Regions from separate parts of the Homo sapiens genome. Here all the other regions are linked to region 2. Evidence: fine-mapped expression QTL. A gene starts in region 2. Each other region holds a variant in brackets. All regions are shown on one strand. Distances are from middle to middle.

Region 1 (5,281 bases), 22 kb after region 2:
GGACTGCTTTAGCCCAGGAGTACGAGACCAGCCTGAGCAACAAAGTGAGACCCTATCTCTATAAAAAATTTTTTTTAATTAGCTAGGTGTGCTGATGCACATCTGTGGTCCCAGCTATATGGGAGGCTCAGGTGGGAGGATCACCTGAGCCCAGGAAGTTGAGGCTGCAGTGAGCTATGATTGCATCACTGCACTCCAGCCTGGGTGGCAGAGGGAGACCCTGTCTCAAAAAAAGAGGAAAAAAAAAAAAAAAAGGAATGCAGGGTTTTGCAAAAGCTTTAAAAACTCGGTCCAATGAGAGTTCTGGAGGACAGTTCTGGAGAACTAGGAGTCCAACATCAAGATGTCAGAGGATTAGTTGATTTTTGCTTTTCTTTTTTAGGAGTATTTTTGTTTGTTTTTATTTTTGGAGATAGGGTCTATGTTGCACAGGCTGGAGTGTGTGGTGGCTATTCACAGGCATGATGAAAGCACACTGCAGCCTCACACTCCTGGCTTCAAGCAATCCTCCTGCCTCAGCCTCCCAAGTAGCTGGGACTGCAGGCATGCAACACCACACGCAGCAGGGTTGGTTTCTTCTAAAGCATCTCTCATTGGCTTGTAGATGGTTATCTTTTCTCTGTATCTTTACGTGTTCTTCCTTATATGTATGTCTGTGTTCAAATTTCCTCTTCTAAGGACACCAGTCATATTGGATCAGCGCCTTCTCTAATGACCTCATCTTGACTTAATTACCTCTTTAAAGACCTTTCTACAAATACAGTTATATTCTGAGATACTGGGGGTTAGGGCTTCAACATATGAATTCTAGGAGGACATAACTCAGCCCCTAACAAGAGGCTAATCCAGTTCATAGACTTTTAACTGTAAGTATTGGCTTTGCTGATAATAAAAGTTATATAAACTAATAAAAAAGGTCAAATGATGCAGAAATGAATAAAGTCAGTCCTTAGTAATTGTGATGGGGTTAAAATTGGAAAAGGCATTTTCAAGACAGTTGTTGCTTTCAGTTCTTAAAAATAAATTATTTCACATTTTTGCATTGTGGCAAACCATTTGGCTATATTAAAATAGATCAATGGGAATGATCAAACTGAAGAGGCTGTGTAAAAACGGCCAATAAGCAAGAAATACTTCTTCCTTGTATTTATATACTGTTCATATATATATATATACACACACACACACACACACATATATGATCTTTTTTGAGACAGAGTCTCACTCCGTCACCCAGGCTGGAGTACAATGGCATGATCTCGGTTCACTGCAACCTCCGCCTCCCAGGCTGAAGCAATCCTCCCACCTCAGCCTCCTGAGTAGCTGGGACTAAGGGTGCACACTATCATGCTTGGCTAACTTTGCATTTTTTGCAGAGATGGGGTTTCACTGTGTTGCCGAGACTGGTCTCAGACTCCTGAGCTCAAGCGATCTGCCCACGTCACCGTGGGCCACCGTGCCCGGCCTCCTCAACATATTAATTGATTATGTTGCCCTTAATTTATTTCCATTTTAATTACTGACTTTTTTTCTTTTTAAAAAATTATTTTATTGAGGCCTGATTGACAGGTAAAAAGCTGTGCATATTTAATGTCTACAAGTCAATGAGTTTGGGGGTAAGCATAAACTTCTATCTTAAATATTTAAATATATTATGACTGCAACTTCAATATACAAGTGGTGAAATATCTGGATATTATAAATAGCACTGAGTAGCAGTGTTTGTAGTTTAATATTAACAAAGAAATGTTATATTTAACAGAAAAAAACTTTGATCGGAACGTGCCCAAAAAGCCTGCTGTGCCATTGAAGACTGATCATCCTGTCATGGGAATACAGAGTGGAAAAAATTTTATAAATACAAATGCAGCTGATATCATCATGGGAGTGGCTAAAAAGCCTAAACCAATTTATGTTGATAAAAGAACTGGAGACAAGCATGATCTTGAGCCTTCAGGACTAGTTCCAAAGTACATCAATAAAAAGGTAGCCTTGTGGTATATTAATAAGAGGGCTGAAATTCAAATAATTTAAATATGGTGTTCATGATGATCATCTATGTTATCATTATTAGTGCTCTCATTGGACACATTGTCTACTTTGCTGATTCTCATTCTTCTGCAATCTGTGTTTGGTCCAAATGTAATGGGATGAAGTTACAAAGAACCCATAGTAAACAATTCCATATAGTTCAGTAGATAAAAGTTATTGTTTTCCTTAATTTTGATTATTAACATATTTAACAATTTTAATAAACATTCTCTGAAAGATATTTTTGGTTAGTTGGAAATGTCACTAAAAGCAGTCATTACTGTAAATCTAGAAGGAATAAGCTGTCAGATGGTCTTAAGATTTAGTCATTAATTGCAGTAACTTGGCAGCTGAATAAGAAAAATGAAGCAGAATGCAGCTTTAGAGCCATCCATCTCATCAGTGTAGTATAAATAATTCACATTCCTATTTTAACATGAATATATTTATTTGGTTTTGGTTTTGGGTAAAGACTTGAAAGTACTGTACAATAATCTAGTCCTTTTGGGTCCTTCATTTGTATCTGAAAAGGTGTGTAATTTCATTGGTGAACATTATAGTTTAAATATAGATTTTTTTTGAGACATATTCTCATGCTGTTTCCCAGGCTGGAGTACAATGGTGCAATCTCAGCTCACTGCAACTTCCAACTTCCGGCTCGAGTGATTCTCCTCACTCAGCCTCCCAAGTAGCTGGAATTACAGGCATGCATCACCAGGCCTGGTTATTTTTTTGTATATTTAGTAGACAGGGGGTTTCACCATGTTGGCCAGGCTGGTCTTGACTCCTGACCTCAAGTGATCCACCCACCTCAGCCTCCCAAAGTGCTGGGATTGCAGACATAAGCCACTGCACCCAGCCAAATACAGATCTTTAAAATAAAAAAGCTTACAAAAAATCTTATTTAATGCTACTTTATTTTGCGCACTTATAAAGCTTAAAAGTGCTTGAAACACACAAAATATGAATGCAGGCTGGGCACAGTGGCTCACAACTGTAATCCCAGCACTTTAGAAGGCCAGGAGGATTGCTTGAGGTCAGGAGTTCAAGTCCATCTTGGCCAACATGGTGACACCCCATCTCTACTAAAAATACAAAAATTAGCCAGGCGTGGTGGTGTGTGCCTGTAATCCCAGCTACTCGGGTGGCTAAGGCACGAGAATCGCTTGATCCCAGGAGGCGGGGGTTGCAGTGAGCCAAGGTCGCGTCACTGCACTCCAGCCTGGGTGACAGAGCGAGACTCGGTGTCAAAAAAAAAAAAAAAGAGTGCAGAATTCTAAA[G/T]AATAATAAGTTGCATCAAGAAGAAATGAAGGAAGGGAGGGAGAAAGGAAAGGAAGGAAGGAAAAAGGAAGAGAGAGATAAAGAAAAAGGAAGAGAGATAAAGAAAAAAAGAAAAGAAATTGCAATAGTGATGTACAGGGACCTAAAATTGAAGAGTCCAGTGATCTACCATGATAAATCCAATGCCAGTGGAAAATCAAAACAGGACCCTCAAGGCTGTTTTCAGAGGACACTGTCTTCTCAGGAATCTAGGAGTTCCCAGGATAAGCCAATAAAGTTACTTCAGGCTTCTCCAGGTACTTCCTCCTTCTGTGGCCCCTGGAAACTGTTTTATAGTCGTTGTCCCACAGGATAGGGAAAAGTGGAAAACTCACTCTCATGGCTCTTAAAGCCACTTCCAGTCCATTATTTCTCCATGATCATATGAAAAGTCTTTACTGGTCATGCCACCACCTGTCACACACTCTGCCCCTCCCTTCTGGCTGCTCTCTAAGCTGTCCACTTGAATGCATTTTCTACCTTCAACAGGAAATTTGGAGTATCCATCATGGAAACAGAAAAATACCAGAGTTTACCAAACCATGAAAGCACTGTGCACCTAATGCCCTTTTGGTGTTGCTGACTAAGCAATCAGTGCTCATGAAAGACTTACTCAATTTACTTTTCCCTTATCAGAGTTAAGTTTTAAAGATCTATCATTGGTAGGTGAGATAGTAAATAAATTCTTTTAAAGTCAATGTCATATTTTTATAAAATGAGTGAACTCCCATTTCAGCTCCAAGTGAATTATATGCCATTCATACCATGAGAAACAATTTCTGAAAACAAGCAAGGATAGATGATCACATGAGGTATTTAGCAATACCAGTAAAGACATTCTTTCAAAGTCTAACTCTGCCACTTAGTAACTGTGATTTCCAACAATCCATTGGATTTATCACAGGGTTGTAGTGAGGATTAAATTATATAAAGTATATTGAGCACTTGACACAAAATGTGACACCTAATAAAAGAACAAAGAGTGAATAGTATAATATATGCAATTTTATTAACAGTATGCATTAGCCTCCGGTGATTCAGCCCATAGGAATATTTCAGATCATTGAAGCTTTTGCTCATTTGTGAGTTTTTTTTCTGAACTGTATCACACCATTCCCTTTCTTTTTAAAAACACTTAATTTAATTTTTTTTAGAGATGGAGTCTCACTATGTTGCCCAGGCTGGTCTTGAACTTTTGGGCTCAAGCAGTTCTCCTGCCTAGCTGTCCCAAAGTGCTGGGGTTACAGGCTTGAGCCACTGCGCCCAGTCATTCTCTTTCTTAAACAGAGTATGCCAAATATAATTTAATCTTTCTGTGATCCTGCAGAATCATCATGATGAAGCTCCATTATTGTACTAAGCTGTAATGAGGTGTTTCCTTCAGTGTTTCCTGAAGTGGATTGGCCTGTCTCACTCACTGCACCAGCTGACCAGAATACTGGCCTCCCAGAGTCTATTTGTATTGTCCTCTGCAGCTTCCAGAACACATTTATATCTAGGATTTCTATCCCTTGTTCAGTCAGGATGGGTTAAGTTACACTGTGATGACAAACAATCCCCAAATTTCAGTAACTTAAAGCAACAAAGTGTTATTGTTTGCTTTTGCCACGTGCCCTTTGAGGGTTGTTACAGGCTCTGCTTCTTGTCCTTCTTCCAGGACCCAGAAAAATCTAAACATTGCTTGTCACTAGACCAGACAGGAAAAGACACAGCAAGTCATCCACTAATTCTTAAGACTCCTATCGAGAAGTGGCAGAGGTCACCTCCACTGACACTGAGCAATTCAGGGCATATGGCTACATCTTACTTTATGAGGACAACACAGGAAAGTGTTGTCCTACCAAGTGTCTAGAAGGAGAACAGAATATTTGTCAGAATTTTAATGACTACCATACCTCCCAACTGCTGCTTCTTCGGAGAGTTCCTCCCC
Region 2 (5,281 bases):
CAGGCTCCCACTCTGTTGCCCAGGCAGGAGTGCAGTGGCACAATCTTGGCTCACTACAGCCTTGACTTCCTAGGCTCAAGCAATCCTCCCACCTCAGCCTCCCAAGTAGCTGGGACTAAAGGCACGCACCACCACACCCAGCTAATTTTAGTATTTTTAGTAGAGAGGGGGTTTCGCCATGTTGCCCAGGCTGGTCTCCAACTCCTGGGCTCAAGCAGTCTTCCTGCCTTGGCCTTCAAAAAGTGCTTGGATTGCAGGTATGAGCCACTGTGCCCAACTAAAATTTTAAAATATTTTCAATCTGTAATTAGTTGAATCTGAGAATGGGAAATTCACAGATATGGAGAACTAACTGTGTATCAGGACACAAACTAGCCAAAAGGAGGTTAAGCTCTACTGCTTCTGACTTCTGACCAAAAATTCTCTCAAACTTTTCATTCAGAGGGCCTCCCACTTGCCATGAAACAGAGGTGAGGGTGGAAGGACCACACAATCCAGTATAGTTCTGTAATCACAAGGATCTCACAACTAAAACAATTTTGCAAGTTCATCACTTAGTCTTTATATTACTATCAAAGCTGACTAAGCTTTTTCTGCCGTTAGACTTCTGCTGTTAGACATATTCTTAACGATCTCGAATATTTAATTGAAAACTTTAGTATCCACAATTCTATAACTTTGAGAATTATAAAGAACCTGTCTTTATAAAGGGTTTATTTACCTTCCAATTGTCTTATATACTCATCTACACCCATTTTATTCATTTAAATAGATTAAAATAATCCTTCGCAAAAAAAAAAAAAAAAAAAACAACTCTCATTTGTTTATGTACATCACAGGCATACCATTATATACGGGGATCTAGGATCTGTGCAAACTACAATCCACAGGCTAAATCTGGCCCACCATCATTTTCATAAATCAAGTTTCTTTGAAGCACAACTTCAGTCATTCATGTGCTCACATATTTGTTCAGTACCGTCTTTGGCTGCTTTTGAGCTACAATGGCAAAACTGAGTAGTTGCAACATAACCACTTGGCCTAAAAAGGCCTGAAATATTTACTGTCTACCCCTTTATAGACAGTTTGTTCATCCCTGTAGGTATATACCAGTTAATTCCCTGTGGACATGCGGTGGACACAGGCATTTTTTTGAAGTGTCATTTCAAGAGCATTATAAAAACTAGAAATAATTTTGCTTAAACACACTTTCAAAAGGCAAGGAGAATTGCAGATCAAATGTCTAAGAAAAAAGAAAAGTTTTTTTCCAAATGATTTAACAACCTGCTCATGGCTGTAAACTAACTATACCACAGTGAGGTCTTGCACAAATTGTTTAGCATTTTTTAAAGCATAATAAATATACAGACATCAGTGAAATTATTTTATTTCAGTAACCCCAGAACATCAAGGCTACCAAAGGCCAGTTGGTGCTAACTGCAGAAATCATGTTTTGCCCTTACTTGCTATTTCAGGAACTGATTAACACAAATAGTCTCAAGGTGTTCCTTCTAATTAGAAAATTCATAAGCTTTAGCCAGTGACTATCCACTTGGCTAATGGCGTTATCATTCCATGAGTCCTTGGTTCGAATCTTCGTACATACAGGAGGTTTCCCGCCAAATTTTTTCTCTATACTTGCTAAACAGAAATCCCAAACATAAAATACTCAAGGGCGAAAAGAAAGGGGCAAAGTGATATAGATTTGGATCTAGATCTAAATATAGATCTACAGATCCATCTATCTAAAATGTTTTGGAAGACAATCTGATGTGAAGAAATCTGGAGAATTTTCCCTAAGCGTCTGGGACAAAAATTAAAATCAACTGTATACAAAAAAAAAAAAAAGAAAAACTTAACGTATTCTTATGTAGTGAAATTCAGTAAGAGCCCAAAGTAAGGACCTACACATTCAGTAAAGCCTTTTTATACAGGAACTAAAAGGTTCACCAGGCCATTGTGTTGTTTTAATCACTCCGCCAGCCAACCAGGCAGTGAGAAACCCAGACTCAAGTGTGTTTTCTCTCCTCTCCGGGAAGCTTTATTTCCTTCGGGCAGAGTGGCCTCTGTACCGGTGGTTCAGAGGCATCCATCTTCCTCCCCAAATCCTATTACCAAAATGTCTTTTAAACACTCGGGTAAAAGCGTCTAAATGACTTTCCTACGGCAGGCCCATGTGCATAGATTTACGGGTGACCAGGTGGAACAAAAAGGAATAAAACCGCTTCTCAGAAGACAATTTTCCAACAAGGGACACCAAAAACTGGACAAAAACGTAAAGGCCCACTTAAAAGGCTTCTCCTCTTAGTTTAGGCTGCTCATTTACAAAGAGCAGGTCCACTGGTTCCTGGAGAACGACCTAGAGGAAGAGTCCCGACCCGGGGAAGAGCAGGCGCAGAGCCGACCCGGAGGACCGCCCAAGGGGCGGTCCCGGGAGCAGGGGCGGGAGGGCGAGCGCAGCAGGCGGAGGAGGCCGCGGGCCCCGTGCGCGCACTCACACACGTGGCGGGCAGGGCTGCGCGGCGTTCCGAGGAGCCTCGACCAGAAGCAGCAGGAAAAATGCGCGCAGAGTTGAGATGACCAGCGAGTAGCGGAAAGGGGAAGGGACGGTACGGGGAAAGGCATGCGATGGGAGCGGGCTGGCTTCTAGTTTTCCTTCCTTTCTCCTCCAATAACTCACCAAGGAAATCTCACTGAGAAGACGGGGGAAATGAAAGGAAATGGGGGAGCAGTGTCCACGAGCCGCTAAAGCCTCCACAGGAGACGGAGCACCGTACCTGCAGCTAGCTCCCCGGTCCCGCCCCCGCGCAGTGGACTCTGCGCCTGTGCCTGCGGCGGCCAGCGTGCCTCCGCTCCACGCCCTTCCCCGAGCGGCCTCGCGCAGGGCACGTGACTCTCCTTTCTCACTGTAGCCTATCCGAGCACTCCGATCTCCTCAGGCTCCTCCCCTCCCTCGTCTCCCTGGCGGCGCTGGCCTTGCGTCCTCGTGGTCTCAGCCGCTCGCTCCGCCCACACCGCGATTGGGGCCTGCTCACAAAAACCTTATTGGGTGACGCCTGCGCACCAGCTGCGCTTTGCCGTCTCTACTAGGATTTTTCTTTTTTCCCCAGATACACAGAAATAGAAAAGAGCACAGTTTTTAAGGGGACATCATTTTCACCCCGTTAACTTTCAAAGGCACGTAAAAACAGTGGCTTCCAAATGAGCTTCTCTAGCAGAAGGCGCTGCAGAAAGAGGGAAGAGGGGAGACCTAGTTTGCGGTGCTGCCTGCCACTTCCTCGTTGCCTAGTAACGGTTTCCACGGCAACCGCACAGTCAACGACGCTTAGCAATCCGGAGAGAAATAGGGTGTTTTCTTCCCGAGAGAGGACTGCTAAGAGGGGGTTAAAGGGGGACGATGTGAAGGAGAGAACCTGTGGTCCTTCAGAAGGCGAAGAAGAAAGAAAGGGGAAGCAGTGAAGAAAGGGACGGAGATACTGGGACAGGGAGAAAAAAGTTGTGGAGAGTAGCTTTTAAGGAGTCATTTGGTGGCCATGGATCCAACGTGCTCTTCTGAGTGCATTTATAACCTCATACCCAGTGACTTGAAGGAGCCTCCCCAGCCTCCTAGGTATGTGGATAAGCAAAGACTATCACTTGAAACAAGAATGGGGAATACTCAGTATTAATTAAGCATACATATACTGGAATTTTTAATAATAAATAAAATGTATTTTTGCCTCGATGAAGTAGCCTTGGAGGATAACTTGTTAGAGAAAAGGTCGAAATATCTAGGTATTCAGCATCTCACAGTTTTACAGAGAGGGCAGTCTGGCGCTGTGAGATGACCATTTTATTATATTACACTTAACCTCTTATTAATACGGTATGTGATTATTGTGTAATTTAATTATATGTGATATACAGCATAGTATGAAGTTTCATGTTGAAAAGAAAAAAATCACAATTCTATTATCTTGTTTAAGGATACTTGATGTTTGGTTTCAGGAGTTCGGTGTTGTATTTCTAACTGCACTACTCCCTCTCTAATGGGATAGGATAGGACTTTTCCCCCAAGATTTTTATGAAATATAAATTTACATTTGCTTTTGAGCCTCAGGTTTTTGATCAGTGAAACGAAATATCTACCACTATTAGGCAGTTTCTAAGGACTTTTTCAGATCTAATGGTTTAAATGGAAGGAAGAATTGGTGGATAGATAATGAACCAAAAAATATGTAATTGAGTTGAAATTTTACATAGGTCTTAGAACCTCTTAAATTCTCCAAATCTCAAAAACGTGCAAAGGAAGCACTTCAGTTACTCCCATCTGTAGGGACTTCTTAGAACTTACTTAAATCTGTGGGGAGCAAAGAAAGTAGTGGAGAAAATCTCATTTCTCCTAGGACTTGAAATGTTTCCTGTCTTTTACCATCATCCTTGTCCGTATGCAAGTCAAAACCACATTTGAAAAGGACTGGACTAAAAATCGGGCCTAGCAATTAATTGTCTTTGTGAACTTTAGAATAAAGTTTCATTTGTTTACTGATCTGTGAGATAAATGTACCAGATAATATCCAAGGCCCCTTTTAGATCTAATGGTCAATTATTTTTACTAGTATTAGGGTAATAGCTTCAACAAGTAGGCAGCTTCTTCAATTTTAAGTATCTGGTTTAAATTAGAGCAGTAACTGTATTACATCTCCATTAGCATATCAACATCTAGAGACTGGAAAGAGGAATGTAAAGTAAGTTATGGCACAGTTGCAGAATTTATTTTCAAATTTTCTATTGTTGCACCAACTTTTGGTTTCAAATTCCTGCATATTACATGAGATAAAACTCCTCTATAACAGATTGGTAGATTGTATTTCTATAGAATATTGAATTTGAGAGTTATTTTATTAGGTAGGTATTCTGTTCTTTGGCAAATTAAAAAGCTTTACTGCATCTAGACGATTTTTTTTTTCAAAAAAAATTTATAGGAACAGTCTTTATTCATTTGGCAAGCATTAATGGAGCCCCTATTATGTGTATAATATTGCACTAGTATATCTGTTCTTGGTGCTGTTGGAGTGATAGCACAGACTTCTTGGTTTTACTATGAAGAAATGAGTAGAAGAAAGATTTATGATTAGAGGAAATAGAGGCACCCAAATGTGATGCCAAAAGAATCATTTCTGTTAGGTTAAAGTCAATTTACACTGGCAAGATTCTGACAACTGCCTGGCTTTTGATCTCCCACGCCTCAGAGTTTACCGTCTTTTTGGGGAACTGAAATATGAACACTAAAATTTATCAT
Region 3 (5,281 bases), 34 kb before region 2:
AAAAAGATGTATGTATAAGAATGCTCATTGCAGGGTTATTTACAGCATTCGAAATATTTCAAACTACCTGAGTGACCAAGAACAGAAAATTAATTGAATAAATTATGGTGCAGTAAAAAACCCGAAGGTAATATTGTTAATATTACTATTATTGTCCTATGAACCTGAAGTCACCTACTTTCATTGAGCTAGCTGCTGCATCTAACTATTTATAATAGAAAATTAGTGCCCACAGAAAGACAAATAGGGCAGGGCCTGACTTATATGCAGAATCTAAAACAGTGAACTCCTAGGAGCAGAGTAGAATAATGATTACCGGAGGCTGGGAAGTGGGGGAAATGGGGAGATATTAGTCAAAGGGTGCAGTTTCAGTTAGACAGGAGGAATACGTTTTTTGAGATCGATTGCATAGCTTGGAGACTATAGTTAATAACAATGTATTATATACTTCATTTGCTAAGAGAGTAAATTTCAAATGTTCTCACCACAAAAAGGGATAAGTATTTGGAGTGATGGATATGTTAATTCGCTTGATTTTACCATTCCACCTTGTATACACATATTGTAATGTCACTTTGTGCTGCATAAATATATACAATTATAATGTCGGTTTACAATAAAATTTAAAAAATGAAAAAAGGTGCCTAACTGAAAATTAGTTTCCTCCCATTTTATTTCCTCCAGTCCTTTTTTTTTTTTTTTTAAAGAGACAAGATGGGTGTGGTGGCTCATGCCTGTAATCCCAGCACTTTGGGAGGCCGAGGTGGATGGATCACCTGAGGTCAGGAGTTCAAGACCAGCCCAACCAACATGGTGAAACCCTGTCTCTAGTAAAAATACAAAATTAGCCAGGCATGGTGGCGCATGCCTGTAATCCTAGCTACTCGGGAGGCTGAGGCAGGAAAATCAGTTGAACCCAGGAGGCGGAGCTTGCAGTGAACTGAGATTGCATTCCAGCTTGGGTAACAAGAATGAAATTCCGTCTCAAAAAAAAGAAAAAAGAAAAAAAAGAGAGAGTCTCACTCTGTAACTCAGGCTGGAGTGCAGTGGTGTGATCATAGCTCACTGCAGCCTCGAACTCCTGAGCTCAAAGCAATCCTCCTGCCTCAGCCTCCTGAGTAGCTGAGACTACAGGTTCTCAGAACCACACCCAGCTAAATTTTTTTTAAAAAAATCTGTAGAGATGATGTCTCACTGTGTTTCCCAGGCTGGTCTCAAACTGCTGGCTTCAAGCGATTCTCCCACCTTGGCCTGCGATTACAGGCATGAGCCACTGAGCCCCGCCTCTAGTACTTTCTTAAATCCATGATTAGTGTAAATGTACTTACTAGGTGACTATTCCTGAGGATTTAGAAATGTCAGTCAACATTATATATCTTACCATAATATATAATAATATTTAATACTTAAACAAGAATATGTTAATGAAGGAAAAATTTGAAAGGCCCGAATAAGGCCACCTCTTATCATGATCCATAAAATGCAGCCTTTAGCATACTGACCTCTTTACTTGCCAGACAGCCAGGGCTAGATTTAGGTTTATTTTTGTTTGCTTTGTCTTATCAAATTGCTCAACTAAGGTAATCATTTCTCACTTATTAGACTCTCCCACAGATATTATACAGTGAGAGACCCAGCCTGTCCCTCCTGTTGGTACATTCTACCCAAGAATTCTAAGGAACATAACTTTCTAGTTAATGATAAATGACAATGGACTTTCTGCTCTATTCTTTGGTGCTTAAATTGTTATTTTTGCTGCCTAATGTGAATTTTTTTCTATTAAAACAATTGAAAATAACATTATTTTATAAATGTATATGTTGCTGATGCAGATATGGCTACAAGCCACTAGGTATCCTAGCTGTGAATTGCAGAATCATTTCAGAGGAACAGGGGACAGGCTCTAAGCAGAATGACGACCTAGTAGGGACAATGGATTTGTGGTCATTAGCCTCTGTACTCCTCGTTCTGCCTTGATTGCTTCCATGGCTTGGTGACTTCTCTCTCGAACCTTCAGAGAAAGGACCTGATATAGTTTGGATATTTGTCCCTGCCCAAATCTCCTCTTGAATTGTAATCCCCAGTACCGGAGGCGGAGCCTTGTGAGAGGTAATTGGGTCATGGGGGTGGATTGCTCATAAATGGTTTAGCACCATCTGCTTGGTGCTGTCCTTGTGATAGGGAGGTCTTGTAAGATCTGGTAGTTTAAAAGTGCGTGGCACCTCTCCTGTCCCTTGCTCCTGCCTTCACAGTGACATGCCTGCTCCGCCTTCACCCTCTGCTATGATTATAAGCTTCCAGAGGCCTTCCCACAAGCTGAGCAGATGCCAGCATCATGCTTCCTGTACAGCCTGCAGAACCATGAGCCAATTAAACCTCTCTTCTTATAAATTACCCAGTCTCAGGTATTTCTTTATAACAATGCAAGAACAGCCTAATAGGGACCCAACACAGCTTTGCAGGAATAGGAACATATGTACTGCTTCTCCAAGGAGGGTTTGCATTTCAAATGTTATCTCAAACTGTAGAAATGCTTATTCTCTATTAATAAACTGGAAGCAAGAAGAGGAGCTATATTTCAGGAGTGGGAAGAACTATAAAACCCTTAAATCATTCATCCTTTGGACAAGACTTGCAACTGCATTCAGTTTTATACGGTCGTTTATGTAGCTTTTGTGTACTGTTTTAAGTGCAGAAACTTGTAAGTTCCAAGGATACATAAAATACATAATTTTCAAAGTCTGTACCTATAAGGCATGCACGGGAAAATAAATCATCAGTAAAAAGTAAGTATGAAGTTTGGAATGAATTAGAAACAAATTTTTTATACCACATTTCATCAGCACAAAGGTGACCCATGTTAATTTTAATAAGACAGTCCTCCTTTACCATAAAATGCCCTTCACCTTTTTTGAAACTTAAGTAGGGTACATATATATTGTTTGATAATCTGACTTAACTCCACTTATTAGTAGGTCTCATAGACATTCCCTTGTTCTTTTTGACAGCATTACCTCCTTTTAAGAAATTCTCCACAAACCGCAGCATCTAATCCTGGGTTTCACTGTCTCCTCTGCACATTCTTATCACCCCAGCTCCTTGTCATTACAATAACATGTTTCTCAGGATGAAACATGATATGGTTTGCCTGAATCCCCACCCAAATCTCAAAT[G/T]GTAGCTCCCATAGTTCCCACGAGTCGTAGAAGGGACCAGTGGGAGGTAATTGAATCATGGAGCCAGGTCTTTCTCATGCTGTTCTCGTGGTAGTGAATACGTCTCACGAAATCTAACGGTTTTATAAAGGGCAGTTCCCCTGCACATGCTCTCTTGCCTGCCACCATGCAAGACGTGACTTTGCTCCTCCTTTGGCTTCTGCACGATTGTGAGGCCTCCCTAGCCATGTGGAACTGTGAGTCAATTAAATTTCTTTCCTTTACAAATTACCCAGTCTTACGTATGTCTTTATTAGCAGCGTGAGAACAGACTAATACAAAATGGTTTCTCTTACTACTTGATATGGTTTGGATGCTTGTCCCCTCCAAATTTCATGTTGAAATTTGAAATATGATCCCCAGTGGTGGGAGGTGACTGGATCATAAGGGCAGATCCCTTCTGAGTGGTTTGGCACCATCCCCTTGGTGATGAGTGAGTTCTTGCTCAGTTAGTTCACACCAGATCTGGTTGTCTAAAAGCCTGGGACATCCCCCTGCCCTCTTGCTCCTGCTCTCATCATGTGACATGCCTCCTCCCCCTTCACCTTCCACCTTGATTGGAAGCTTCCTGAGGCCCTCACCCCATGCAGATGCTGACACCATGCTGCTTGTACAGCCTGCAGAACCATGAGCCAATTAAACCTCTTTTCCTTATAAATTACCCAGCCTCAGGTATTCCTATATAACAATGCAAAAATGGTCTAATACACTACTGTCTCCCAGAAACTCTTAACTCTTTTTTTTTTTAAATTTTAATTCTTGAAGTCTTTTTTTTTTTTTTTTTTGAGACGGAGTCTCACTCTGTCAGGCTGGAGTGCAGTGGCATGATCTCGACTCACTGCAACATCCGCTTCCCAGGTTCAAGTGATTCTCCTGCCTTGGCCTCCCAAGTAGCTGAGATTACAGGCATGTGCCACCACATCTGGCTAATTTTTGTATTTTTAGTAGAGATGAGGGTTCACCATGTTGGCCAGGCTGGTCTCGAACCCCTGACCTCAGGTGATCTGCCTGCTTCAGCCTCCCAAAGTGCTGGGATTATAGGCATGAGCCACCATGCCTGGCCAAAGTCTTGTTTTGATACAAACATTACTTTTTCTATTTCCCCAACTTAACTAGTAGAATGATGATCTCCTGACATCTGTAACTCAAGTTGACTTTTTTTTACCTTCCATAAGTTTTTATTTACATACCCTTATTGAGATTTCCAAATTCTGTTCACTTATTACCTCCTGAAATTGGCCATTTTGTTTATCACAGTTTCCCCAGTACCTAGCAAAGTGCCTAGCACGTTGTAGGAGAGCAATACTTATCTGAGAGAATGTACCCCTAGAGAACGAAGTAGCACCTAAAATATATTGAGCACCTACTTTGTGCAAAGTACTCTAAGTAATTTACAGTTAACCCTCCCAACAACTTTAGAAGGAAGGATATGTTATCATCTTCAGTTTACAGATGAAAAGTGAAGAGGTTCAATAACATGCTGCCCTGGTCACTCAGCTAGCAAATAGTAGTGATGTGGTTAAAATAAAGGCATCACGACTTCAAAGCCAGCCTTCTTAATCGCTATTCTTTATATACAGCCTCCTAGAAGGCACTGAATGCCTTCTCCTTCCTCTTTCTTTCTGATTTCCATGTCCATTTCCTCCCTTTTCCCCATAACATTGGACATTTCCAAGTTGATCTGTATCTATCTTCAAGAAAAAAAAAATGAAGTTTTATTCTTACCCCAAATCGCTGGGGTAAAGATATAAAAAGACCTCAACTGCAAGAGATTCCAACATCTGAGAATGACTTTGGAAGAATCCCTTGCCTCTCTGGACTCCCAGCACGCCCTGAAACCCCAGCCTGAGCACACCCTTTGCAAAGTCATAAAAGCAGGGCTGAGAACAGCTATCTGAGACCTTGGCTCATGGACTGCATCTCATTTGCTTTGGCTGTTGATTTGGGCCATTGCCTGTGTGGGACTTTGTTTCTCATCAGCAGCTTCTGCTTGGTGTGAACTCCACGACTGGGGCTTGGTTTTCTTTCTGCTGGACTGTGCTTCCCCATGGAGACCTTGATGCGCTAAC
Region 4 (5,281 bases), 130 kb before region 2:
ACAGGGAGAACAAAATTTGAGTGAATGGGGACCGGGCACGGTGGCTCACGCCTGTAATCCCAGCACTTTGGGAGGCTGAGGCAGGCGGATCACTGGAGGTCAGGAGTTCGAGACCAGCCTGGCCAACATGATGAAACCCCATCTCTACTAAAAATATGAAAATTAGCCAGGCGTGGTGGTGGGTGCCTATAAACCCACCTACTCGGGAGGCTAAGGCAGGAGAATCGCTTGAACCTGGGAGGAAGAAGATCAGTGAGCCGAGACATTGCACCACTTCACTGCAGGCTGGGTGGCAGAGCAAGACTTCATCTCAAAAAAAAAAAAAAAAAAAAATTGGGTGAATGGGGAGACTTTGGATACGATAGCTGTAGACATTTTGGCTTTAGACCTTCTGATGGTTAATATTGAGTGTCAACTTGATTGGATTGAAGGATGCAAAGTAATGTTCCTGGGTGTGTCTGTGAGGATGTTGCCAAAGGAGATTAACATTTGAGTCAATGGACTGGGAGAGGCAGACCCACCCTCAATCTGGGTGGGCACCATCTAATCAGCTGCCAGCGTGGCTAGGAGAAAAGCAGGCAGAGGAACCTGGAAGGATGAGACTTGCTGGGTCTTCTGGCCTCTATCTTTCTCCCATGCTGGATGCTTCCTGTCCTCAAACATTGGACTCCAAATTCTTCAGCTTTTGGACTCTTGAACTTATACCAGTGGTTTGCCAGGGGTTCTGAGGCCATCTGCCACAGACTGAAGGCTGCACTGTTGGCATCCCTACTTTTGAGGTTTTGGGACTCGGACTGGTTTCCTTGCTTCTCAGCTTACAGACAGCCTATTGTGGGACTTCACCTTGTGATCATGTGGGTCAATTCTCCTTAACAAACTCCCCTTCATATATACAACTATCCTATTAGTCCTGTCACTGTAGAGAACCCTGACCAATACAGACCTGATAGTTGCTTAAATTACAAAAATATCCAATAAAACATTCTGCAATAATGAATATGTTCTCCATCAGCATTGTCCGTTGTGGTAGCCACCGGTCACATGCGGCCATTGAGCATTTCAAAGTGGCTAGTGAGACTGAGGGAGGGAATTTTTAATCATATATACTTTTAATTAAATTTAAATTAAATTGTATTGGGCAGCACAAGTTACAGCTATAGGAACTTTAGGCAAAGGAAGGAGGTTCCGCCAACAGTTAGTCCTTCCAGGCCTTAGACTGGAGACTAAAGTCTTAGACTGTAGATCTACTTTAAACCACCTTTTCTGACAGATAGAAAAGCAAAGCTCTGAAGAGGTGTCTTTTCTAGATTAACACAGCTGGCTACTACAGATCCTTCATAAGGGCTTGAGTATTTTAATGGCAGTGGCCTTGCAACCGGGACTGTTTCGCAGGCAGCTGAAGATGTGTCACACGCATTTAGAGAAATTGTCAAGGACAGAGATAAATGCTCTGGAGTCATCCCGTGGATGGAGTGATGGTTGCAGCCGTGAATGTAGATACAACCTAGGAAGAGAAGAGCGTGGGGCTCTGTATCAAGCCTTAAGAGATACTCGCACCTACATAGAAGGAAAATAAAACAAATCAGACCAGGCGCGGTGGCTCACGTCTGTAATCCCAACACTTTGGGAGGCCAAGGTGGGTGGATTGCTTGAGGTCAGGAGTTCAAGACCAGCCTGGCCAACATGGTGAAACCCTGTCTCTACTAAAAATACAAAAATTAGCTGGGCGTGGTGGGCGCCTGTAATCCCAGCTACCTGGGAAGCTGAGGCAGGAGAATTGCTTGAACCTGGGAGGCAGAGGTTGCAGGGAGCTGAGATCATGCCTGCACTCCAGCCTGGGTGACAGAGCAAGACTCCGTCTCAAAAAACAAAAAAGAATAAAATAAATAAAATAGAGAAAATTATTTTTAAAAATCAGAAAAGGAACAAGCTTTGCCTCTGTCAAATGTATACCAATAATCAGATAGCTCCAGAGTTGCCGCCACCTCACACTTTTAAAATTCATCTCTGAGTGAAAGGCACAATGATAAAAAGTGGGAGCCCTTGCTGGCTTCATGTTCCATCTTTACCATCTATTAGCTGGGTGGCCAGAGTGAAGCACACAACCTCTCTATGCTTTCCTTATGTCAACAAGACATCTACACCCCCATGTTTATTGCAGTAGTAGTCACAACAGCCAAGATATAGAATCAACTCAGGTGTCCAACAACAAATGATACAATAAAGGAAATGTGGTGTATACACAATGGAATACTACTCGGCCATAAAAAAGAATGAGGTCCTGTCAGTTGCTACAGTTTGGATAAAACTGGAGGACATTATGTTAAGTGAAATAAGGCAGGAGCAGAAAGTTAAATACTGCATGTACTCACTCATAGTGGAAGCTAAAAAAAGTTGATCTCATAGAAGTAAGAAAAGAATACCAGAGGCGTGGAAGGGTAGGGGAAAGAAAGGGATAGGGAGAGATTTATCAAAGGATACAAGATTACCACTAGAAAGGAGGAATAAGTTCTAGTGTTCTATTCCATTGTAGGATGACTATGGTTAACAGTAAAATATTATGCAGTTTCAAATAGCTAGAAGGAGGCTGTTGAATGCTCCCAACACAAAGAATTACTATGTACCCCATCAATATGTACAATTATTATTTGTCAATTTAAAATGTTTTAAGATTTTTTTTAAATGGAGGTAATGACAAGGCCTACTTCAGAAAACTGTTAAGATTGAGGTAACAAATAAAATGCCAGCAAAACCCTGGCGTATCATATACATTCTTTATTTTTTCTTTTCATTTCTTTTTCTTTCTTTCTTTCTTTTCGTTTTTGTTTTTGTTTTCTGTCATTGTTAAAATAGAGACGAGGTCTCCCTATATTGTCCAGGCTGGTCTTGAACTCCTGAATTCAAGCAAGCTTTCTGTCTCAATCTCCCAAAGTGCTGAGATTACAGGCATGAGCCGCCACACCCAGCTACAGTCTTTAAACTTTATTTAAAACATAGAAGTTACCATGTCCTTAATCTCATTCGTCTACCCGTGTCCCTGATCGGGAATAATAGC[A/G]TTGCCCTTCACCTAGTCAATATTTTGAGAACCCTGAGTCCATCTTTGATTCCTTCTTCTTCTTCATTCTCCATATACAGTAATTCACTGAGTGTTATTGATTCTAGCTCCACACTGTGTTTTAAATACGGTGACTTCTCCCCGTGACCTCTGCTGCTGCTCTCACTCAACTTCCCAGCACTGTCACCTGGACCACGGTCACGATGGACTTTCCACCAAAAGCGTCACCACTACCAATGTGTTTGTTACATTCACCCATTCTCAACACCATCTCCAGGGTGGTATGCATAAGCCACAGGTCATTTTGCATCCATCCCCCTCTGGCAGTTTCTTTTTACAGACAGGATTAAGTGGAGACCCCTCAATATGGCATTCAAAGCCCTTCACAACCTGGCCCTAACCTATCTCTCCATTTGGAGTCTGTTTTTATATTTCACCTTTTACTTTGAACCAATAATACCTAAATAGGAATCAAGACATTTAAAAATTTCATATGAACAATTGTCTTATGACTGCATGTGGACCTGATAGATGGAAGCAGACTTTCTATTTGCCTCTATAGGGGAAAATGCTCAATTCTTTATTAAACCTTCCAGAGAGAGGCCGGTGCAGTGGCTCACGCCTGTAATCCCAGCACGTTGGGAGAGCAAGGAGGGTGGATCACCTAAGGTCAGGAGTTCGAGACCAGCCTGGCCAACATGGTGAAACCCCGTCTCTACTAAAAATACAAAAATTAGCTGGGCATGGTGGCACATGCCTGTAATCCCAGCTACTCGGGAGGCTGAGGCAGGAGAATCTCTTTAACCCAGGAGGCGGAGGTTGCAGTGAGCCAGGATCACACCACTACACTCCAGCCTGGGTGACAAAACAAGATTTTGTCTCAAAAAAAAAAAAATTCAGAGAGATTCCTCATGAGTACTTCCTGTAAGTAGGGGGATCCCAAGACAGGTGTAAATCCCTTATTTACACCTGTTGATCCTGTATAATTTTTAAGAGTTCCTCCATGTGGAGATAAAAGTGATTCCATCTTTTTTTTTTTTTTGAGGCAGAGTTTTACTCTGTTGCCACGTTGAGTTCGGTGGCACTATCTCAGCTCATTGCAACCTCCTCCTCCTGGTTTCAAGCTATTCTCCTGCCTTAGCCTCCCAAGTAGCTGGGATTACAGGTGCACACCACCATGCCCAGCTAATTTTTGTATTTTTAGTAGAAACAGGGTTTCACCATGTTGGTCAGGCTGGTCTCAAACTCCCAACCTCAGGTGATCCACCCACCTCGGCCTCCCAAAGTGCTGGGATTACAGGCATGAGCCACCGCACCCAGCCGTTGACTCCATCTTAGAGGCTAATCTCCCATGTTGACTTCTGATTATTTCCCGGCTGCATGAACGCCTCCTGATTCATCCTTTATTTACTATCCCTATTGTAAGAACAAATCTACCTTAATGTTATCACACAAATTATAAGTTATGGCACACAGTATAGCATTCTTGCCTGTACTGAAGAGTTGCTTTGCCTTGTCTTGCTGGAGCACAGATACCCTTTCCCTAGAGATATAAGCCCTGGATCTGGGGAATAACAGTGCAGAGGGCCACCTGTCCTGTGGTCACCCAAGACCACACTTGTGTCTGTCAGTTCCCCAATAAAACACCTTTAAGAACACACTGGACTGATGTGCCTCCTTCTTTGGTTTCTCAGCTCCTTTGGCATTTAGGAGTTGCTTTGTATATATGGTCTTTTCATGGAACACCCCATTTTTCATTCTCAAAAGTGTTCTGCTTTGGGCAATATGTTACATAGTTGCCTAGAACTCCCCCTTGCCAAAATAAGTCAATCTGAAGACGTGAAGGACAGTCCCAGAATGAGCGTTCCTATTCTTCCCACCCAGTTGGTTCTGGAAGTCACTCTCCTTTTCTGTCAGCATCTCCTACTTCCTTTTGGAACCCCTTCAGGGCTGCTTAGTCCTTGCTGAAACATCTTTTAAGGTATTGCCTCATATTTTCTCAACTCCTTTATTAAAAAATGCTTCACAGCCCTGTTCACTGAACCTAGCTGATTAGACAAACATAATAGCTGAGAATTGGCTAGATATGCCACTTCCCACAGAGCATGCGTGAATTTTAAAAGGACCTTAAGAGCCCTGACCAAAGGAATGACTAATGGAGGGATTTTAGGAGAGCTGTGTAGGTGTCAGCAGTCGTTGAAGTGATGCATCAGAGGCCAGGGATGG

Direction of the effects. Alleles are on the strand shown, and positions count from the first base shown. SD is a standard deviation of normalised expression in the study named. Not every link is listed here.
For the expression in iPS cells of the gene that starts at base 2,858 in region 2, A is the high allele of the variant in region 4 and G is the other (large effect, 0.87 SD a copy in HipSci).

The links. PIP is the estimated chance that this variant, and not a neighbour inherited with it, causes the effect.
Region 1: its variant is the best candidate, but not a certain one, in a credible set for the expression of THNSL1 in lung (TOPMed, PIP 0.71).
Region 3: its variant is the best candidate, but not a certain one, in a credible set for the expression of THNSL1 in putamen (GTEx, PIP 0.54).
Region 4: its variant is the best candidate, but not a certain one, in a credible set for the expression of THNSL1 in iPS cells (HipSci, PIP 0.54).

Annotation. Positions count from the first base shown.
Region 1 is chr10:24,992,351-24,997,631 of GRCh38, reverse strand. It overlaps ENKUR (enkurin, TRPC channel interacting protein), which reads left to right. Exons shown (of 6, transcript NM_145010.4): 3 at 1,763-1,986. It also overlaps a transcript of THNSL1 not described here. Among named protein-coding and RNA genes, the nearest start is that of ENKUR, 21 kb to the left of the region's middle. The variant G/T (reference allele first, on the strand shown) is at 3,313.
Region 2 is chr10:25,014,189-25,019,469 of GRCh38, reverse strand. THNSL1 (threonine synthase like 1) reads right to left here and starts at 2,858. Exons shown (of 3, transcript NM_024838.5): 1 at 2,778-2,858. ENKUR (enkurin, TRPC channel interacting protein) reads left to right here and starts at 3,312. Exons shown (of 6, transcript NM_145010.4): 1 at 3,312-3,610. The coding sequence starts at 3,534. RefSeq lists enhancers at 2,137-2,216, 2,816-3,110, 2,421-3,183 and silencers at 2,467-2,546, 2,727-2,926, 3,257-3,306.
Region 3 is chr10:25,048,500-25,053,780 of GRCh38, reverse strand. It overlaps a transcript of ENKUR not described here. Among named protein-coding and RNA genes, the nearest start is that of THNSL1, 35 kb to the right of the region's middle. The variant G/T (reference allele first, on the strand shown) is at 3,174.
Region 4 is chr10:25,142,640-25,147,920 of GRCh38, reverse strand. All of the region lies in intron 6 of LINC01516 (long intergenic non-protein coding RNA 1516), which reads right to left. Among named protein-coding and RNA genes, the nearest start is that of GPR158, 30 kb to the left of the region's middle. The variant A/G (reference allele first, on the strand shown) is at 3,056.